2 linked regions of the Homo sapiens genome follow. The protein of the gene in region 1 purifies or fractionates together with the protein of each later gene. This does not show direct contact. Each region holds a gene or a part of one and is shown in the gene's direction. Other genes may lie near its edges.

Region 1 (3,500 bases):
TTTTTTTTTTGAGACAGAGTCTCACTTTGTCACCCAGGCTGGAGTGCAGTGGCGCGATCACTGCAGCCTCAAACTTCTGGGCTCAAGCAATTCTCTCGCCTCAGCCTCCTGAGTAGCTGGGACCACAGTTGTGCACCATCCGCCCGGGTAATTTTTTTTTTTTTTTCCTTTGAGACAGAGTCTCGCTCTGTTGCCCAGGCTGGAGTGCAGTGGCACCGTCTTGGCTCATTGCAACCTCTGCCTCCTACATTCAAGCAATTCTCCTGCCACAGCCTCCTGAGTAGCTGGGATTACAGGTGCCTGCCACTATGCCTGGCTATTTTTTTTTTTTTTTTTTTGAGACGGAGTATCCCTCTGTCACCCAGGCTGGAGTGCAGTGGCGCCATCTTGGCTCACTGCAACCTCCACCTCCCGGGTTCAAGCCGATTCTCCTGCCTCACACTCCCAAGTAGCTGGGATTACAGGCATGCATCCACCACACCCGGCTAATTTTTGTATTTTTAGTAGAGACGGGGTTTCACCATGTTTGTCAGGCAGTGGTAGAGCTTTGGCACCAGGCTGCCCAGGGTTCAAGGGATGACTCTGCTATGTCCTCGCTTTGTGATCCGCCTGCCTCAGCCTTCCCAAGTGCTGGGATTACAGGCGTGAGCCACCACACCTGGCCGCCTGGCTAATTTTTGTACTTTTAGTAGAGACAGAATTTCACCATGTTGGCCAGGCTGGTCTTGAACTCCTGACCTCAAGTGATCCACCCACTTCGGCCTCCCAAAGTGTTGGGATTTACAGATGTGAGCCACGGTGCCCGGGAAGCCACTGTGCCTGGCCTGGGTAATTTAAAAAATATTTTTTTGTAGAGATAGGGTCTCCCTATGTTGCTCAAGTTGGTCTCAAGCGATCCTCCTGCCTCGGCCTCCCGAAGTGCTGGGGTTCTAGGCATGAGCCACTGCTCCTGGCCATAATAACATTTACTGAGAACCTGTAATGTGCAGTGTCCCATATACACACATGCTGCACTGAATCAATGAGTGTTCTATTCCGTACATGAGGACATTGAGGCTAACAAAGGGGAGGTCACTTGACTTTGGGTTACACAGCCGGATGTCGTGCAAGTCACATGAAATAATTTAGTGGGTTGCAACCAGCATTTAAAAAGAAGAATAGGACAGAAAATATGCATGCACCTGTAGAGCAAGGGAAAGTCTTGTTTCGTGAAACATATACCTTGGTCTGCACTGGTTATAACGTAAATGTCTTCTTATTGCTGATCATGGTTCAAGTTTTGTTTTTGTTTTTGTTTTTGAGATGGAGTCTTGCTCTGTCACCCAGACTGGAGTGCAGTGGCATGATCTCAGCTCACTGCAACCTCCACCTCCCAGGTTCAAGCAATTCTCCTGCCTCAGCCTCCTGAGTAGCGGGGGTTACAGATGCACGCCACCACGTCCAACTATTTTTTGTTGTTTTTTTTTTTTTTTTTCTTAGGGAGACAGGGTTTCACCATGTTGGCCAGGATGGTCTCGATCTCCTGACCTCATGATCCGCCTGCCTTGGCCTCCTAAAGTGCCAGGATTACAGACGTGAGCCACTGTGCCTGACCGCTAATTTCTGTATTTTTAGTAGAGATGGGGTTTCACCATGTTGGTCAAGCTGATCTCGAACTCCTCACCTCGTGATCCACCTGCCTCAGCCTCCCAAAGTGCTGGGATTATAGGCGTGAGCTACCATGCCCCGCCTGGTTCAAGTTTTAAAAATATAGATTCACTTGCTTGTACCCAGGAGGTAGAGATTGCAGTGAACCAAGATCGCACCATTGCACTCCAGCCTGGGCAGCAAGAGTGAAACTCTGTCTCAAAAAAAAAAAATCTATATATATATACATAGATAGATTCACAGTCTGCAGAGGCAGTCAAAGGCACTGGTTAGAGCTTTGGCACCAGGCTGCCCAGGGATTAAGGGATGACTCTGCTGTGTCCTCGCTTTGTGACGTGACTCTGGGCAAATTACTTCACTTCTCTGAACCTCAATTTCCTTTTCTGTAAAATGGAAGTTTTCTGTAAAATACATTTTATGAAGGTGGAGACCTCATGTAAGGACAAAAATTAGTAAGTGCACAGAAGGCACTGGGAACAGCCCCTGACATGTAGAAAGGACACAGAAAATGCCAGATATGGTAATTGACAGAGATGGTGACAACAAAAGAAGGAGAGAGACCCGAGACGTCTTTAGGGACAAGAGGAGAGGTAGCAGAGGAAATCAGAGATGGAGAGATAACATCAAAGGGAGGAAAAGAGAGAAAGAGATCTAGATAGATAGGACAAATGGGGAGAAGGCAAGAGATGCAGAAATAACTGGCTTAGAAAGGGAGAGGTCAAGCCTGGTAGCCCACACCTGTAATCCCAGCACTTTGGGAGGCCGAGGCAGGAGGATCACGTGAGTTCTGGAGTTCCAGACCAGCCTGGGCAACATAGTGAGACCCTGTCTCAATAAAAAATTAGGTGAGCGTGGTGGTATGCACGTGTGGTCTCAGCTACTCAGGAGGCTGAGGGAAGAGGATCACTTGAGCTCAGGAATTTGAGGCTGCAGTGAGTTATGATGGTGCCATTGCACTCCAGCCTGGGCGACAGAGTGAGACCCTGTCTCTAAAAAGAAAAAGAGATAAGCATAAAGAAGAGGAGGTGTGGACAGAGAAAGAAGAGTCACCAGAAGACAGAGGGACCTAGGACAATTGTTTCGGGGCCTTCTTTTTTTTTTTTTTTTTGAGACGGAGTTTCTCTCTTGTTTCCCAGGCTGGAGTGCAATGGTGTGATCTCGGCTCACCGCAACCTCTGTCTCCCAGGTTCAAGCGATTCTCCTGCCTCAGCCTCTTGAGTAGCTGGGATTACAGGCATGCACCACCACGCCCGGCTGATTTTGTATTTTTAGTAGAGACAGGGTTTCTCCACGTTGGCCAGGCTGGTCTCGACCTCCTGACTTCAGATGATCTGCCCACCTCGGCCTCCCAAAGTGCTGGGATCATAGGCATGAGCCACTGTGCCCGGCCGAGGGGCCTTCTTAACCTTGATCGCACATTAGAATTATCTGAGGTGCTTTTTAACAAAACACAAATTCCCATGTCTCAGGCCAATTTAATCAGAATTTGGGGAGTGGAGTCTGGGCATTATATTTACCGGAGCTCCTCTGGTAACTGGAATGTGCAGCCAGGGCTGAGAACTGCTGGGAGGGAGACAGAGACATGGAGAAAGGGTTAAAGAAAGAGGAAGCTGCACCTTAAAGGGAGCCCCATGCAGGAACAGAGTCAGAGACTGATTTGGAAACAGAGATACAAAGAATTGGGAGACAAGACTGAGTGCGGTGTCTCATGCCTATAATCCCAGCACTTTGGGAGGCCGAGGCGGGAGGATCACCTGAGGTCAGGAGTTCGAGACCAGCCTGGCCAACACGGTGAAACCCCGTCTCTACTAAAAATACAAAAAAAATTTAGCCAGGCGTGGTGGGCGCGTGCC
Region 2 (3,360 bases), on another chromosome or scaffold:
ACAGTCATCTGCCCCGATCTGGGGCAACGCAGTTTCTTCCCAGGGCTGTTGCCATAGCATCGCAGTGGATCACCCTTCCTTCAGTCTTGTTCCCCTCTGGTTCTTTCTCTCCACTAGACTTTAAAAAATTTTTGAGATAGGGTCTTGCTCTGTTGCCCAGGATGGAGAACAATCATAGCTCACTGCAGCCACGACCTCCTGGGCTCAAATGATCCTCCCACCTCAGCCTCCCGAGTAGCTGGGACCACTTGTGCTTGCTAGGATGCCTGGCTAATTTTTAATTTTTTTGTAGAGACAAGGTCTCACTGTGTTGCCTAGGCTAGTCTCAAACTGCCAGGCTCAAGCAATCCTCTTGCTTCAGCCTCCCAAAGTGTTGGGATTACAGGCATGAGCCACTGCACCTGGCCTAGCGGATTTCTGAAGCATTAATCTGTTCTGTTACTTTCCAGCTAAAAACCAACAAGTGTCTGAGGACACAGTTTAAACTCCAAGATGATAGGGTCCTCCCTCACCTGGACTCCCACCTACCCTCATGACCTCCTTTTGTGAAATGCTGAAGGGCTCTGCAGCTGGTTGTCTGGTACTGCTGGCCTTTGCTTTCTATTTAGCATGTTCCTTCTCCCACAAAACAAAATCACATTCTCACTATGCCCTGTTCATTCTTCAGGACTATCTTCTGGGAAACTTTTACTACATACCCCTCTCCCCCTAATCTGAGTGTCTGCTTTGCTCAGGTAACATGTGTTCACTGGATAAATCCTTGATTCCTGGCACTGAGGCAGGGTTTCTGTTCCCAGGAAGCAGAGGCATACTATTCTGTGAAGGATTGACTGAGTTTCTCCTAATACCAAGCAGTATCTGAGGGAACAGATGTCTAGCTTAAAATCCTCCCTAGCACTTGTCATAGCAGTGCTACGTATTGCCTGTGAAGGAAGTTTAATAACTGCTGAAAGGTTCGATTAGCTTTATTTCATCAGGATTTGTTTGACTTTACAAATTGATTTGGGTTATTTCAACTTTTAGGTCTAGTCTTAAGTATAACTGGTACATATTCCTTCAAGCAGCCATTACACCTCTCATAAATTTATTATACACCTGCATTTTTATAACTATTATGCTTTTTAATTGTTGGCCACCATTTTTAGTGCTTCTGAATTGTTATGGTTCTCAAGCAGCAGTTGTCACCTTGGTTTTGAATTAATGCTGTGACGCTTGCTTCCAGGACCCCTATGGTGTAGCCGTGGGTGGAACTGTGGGGCACTGCCTGTGCACGGGATTGGCAGTAATTGGAGGAAGAATGATAGCACAGAAAATCTCTGTCAGAACTGGTAAGTCTTGAAAATTACAAATCAGATAACATTTTAGAATCACTGAGAGATTAAAGGGTGTTAGCTTTGATTATTTAAATTTCTGCTGCTGAAGTATACTTGGTTTTTCTAATTACCTACCATCTCTTATAGAGGTATTAATCCTGGTATTGCAAATACGGACTTTTTTCACCTGTGTAGAAGTTAGCAAAATACAAAGTCATTTTTATCGAATTCATAGTAGCTTCTTGTTAACATATTATCTTAGTAAAACAATTGTCATTTGGAAGTATGAGAAGTTTTTGGCTCTAAAAATGTGTCTTACAAGACTGGAATCATGTGGAGACCATATGTACTGATTCTGCTGAATATGTCCTGTGAAGCCACAGTTAGGTCTAGAGATGGAAGAATCGTCTCTTTGCTAGTCAGAAGACCTGAACATTTTCTTTTATAACTGGATTTTAAGATGAGTTATAGTTCTACTGTTGCTTGCCAGCACTGTCTGGATTTAATACAATCCTGTCATTTCTCAAAACAGTGCTGGAGAAAACCTGATTCTTAGTGTTCACAGTCAAGCATGTTAAGTATTGTTCCTTGTTATGTAAAAGGGGTTGAAGTGATTCTAATTTGTTTTCAAGGTTAGTTTAATAGATTGGAAGAATAATTGGCCGCCTCATCGGCTCCCTTTTCATTTTGTACAGTATCAAGGTATAGGAATTTTACTGTATTTGACTTTTTTTCTCTCTCTTCCAGTGACAATCATAGGAGGCATCGTTTTTTTGGCGTTTGCATTTTCTGCACTATTTATAAGCCCTGATTCTGGTTTTTAACAAGCTGTTTGTTCATCTATATTTAGTTTAAAATAGGTAGTATTATCTTTCTGTACATAGTGTACATTACAACTAAAAGTGATGGAAAAATACTGTATTTTGTAGCACTGATTTTGTGAGTTTGACCCATTATTATGTCTGAGATATAATCATTGATTCTATTTGTAACAAGGAGTTTTAAAAGAAACCTGACTTCTAAGTGTGGGTTTTTCTTCTCTCCAACATAATTATGTTAATATGGTCCTCATTTTTCTTTTGGTGCAGAACCGTTGTGCAGTGGGGTCTACCATGCAATTTTCTTTCAGCACTGACCCCTTTTTAAGGAATACAAATTTTCTCCTTCATCACTTAGGTGTTTTAAGATGTTTACCTTAAAGTTTTTCTTGGGGAAAGAATGAATTAATTTCTATTTCTTAAAACATTTCCCTGAGCCAGTAAACAGTAGTTTAATCATTGGTCTTTTCAAAACTAGGTGTTTAAAAAAAGAGACATATATGATATTGCTGTTATATCAATAACATGGCACAACAAGAACTGTCTGCCAGGTCATTCTTCCTCTTTTTTTTTTAATTGGGTAGGACACCCAATATAAAAACAGTCAATATTTGACAATGTGGAATTACCAAATTAAAAGAGAATACTATGAATGTATTCATATTTTTTCTATATTGAATAAACAATGTAACATAGATAACAATATAAATAAAAGTGGTATGACCAGTGCTTGTTTTTCCTTGTGTGTCATATAAAATTATCAGTATTGATAGGCCAATTTCTAAAGCTGATGTAAAAACACTAACATATTAAATATTTGAGATATGCCTAAAGTAGCTAAACAGGAGCCAGGCATTGTTCGAAAGCATTGTCACCCTTACAGTTCTGTGAGGTAGTAGGTACTAATATAAGGTTAAAAAAGAAAAAAACTAACTCACCCAAGGTTACATGGTAGAGTCACACCAGGCGGTTTAATTCCAGAGCCTAATGTCATTCATTATGCTAAGACTACCTCATTTTTTCATGGCAACTTCAGTCGTCACCCTCGTTTGAGTATATTTTGATTTGACTACTACTTCACCCAAGTAGCATAACAGCTGCTTTCTCTCAGCCTTTTATATTCTAGAATCATATGCAGTAACATTCCCATTAATAGCCTCACTAAATTGAAGGACAATTCTACAGAAACATCCATGTTATTTGTGTGAGGTATAATAGGAGACCCAGAG

What was found. Proteins that work in one complex are often made in the same cells at the same time.
Region 2: the proteins of COQ8B (region 1) and TMEM165 purify together in Homo sapiens (affinity purification with mass spectrometry; one large-scale study listed by BioGRID and IntAct). This does not show direct contact.

The regions. Positions count from the first base shown.
Region 1 is NC_000019.10:40,710,387-40,713,886, reverse strand, and holds part of COQ8B (atypical kinase COQ8B, mitochondrial), read left to right. Parts: intron 1-3,500.
Region 2 is NC_000004.12:55,423,316-55,426,675, forward strand, and holds the end of TMEM165 (putative divalent cation/proton antiporter TMEM165 precursor), read left to right. Parts: intron 1-1,222; coding exon 1,223-1,328; intron 1,329-2,060; coding exon 2,061-2,137; 3' UTR 2,138-2,860; downstream 2,861-3,360. UniProt on the Homo sapiens protein: Putative divalent cation:proton antiporter that exchanges calcium or manganese ions for protons across the Golgi membrane.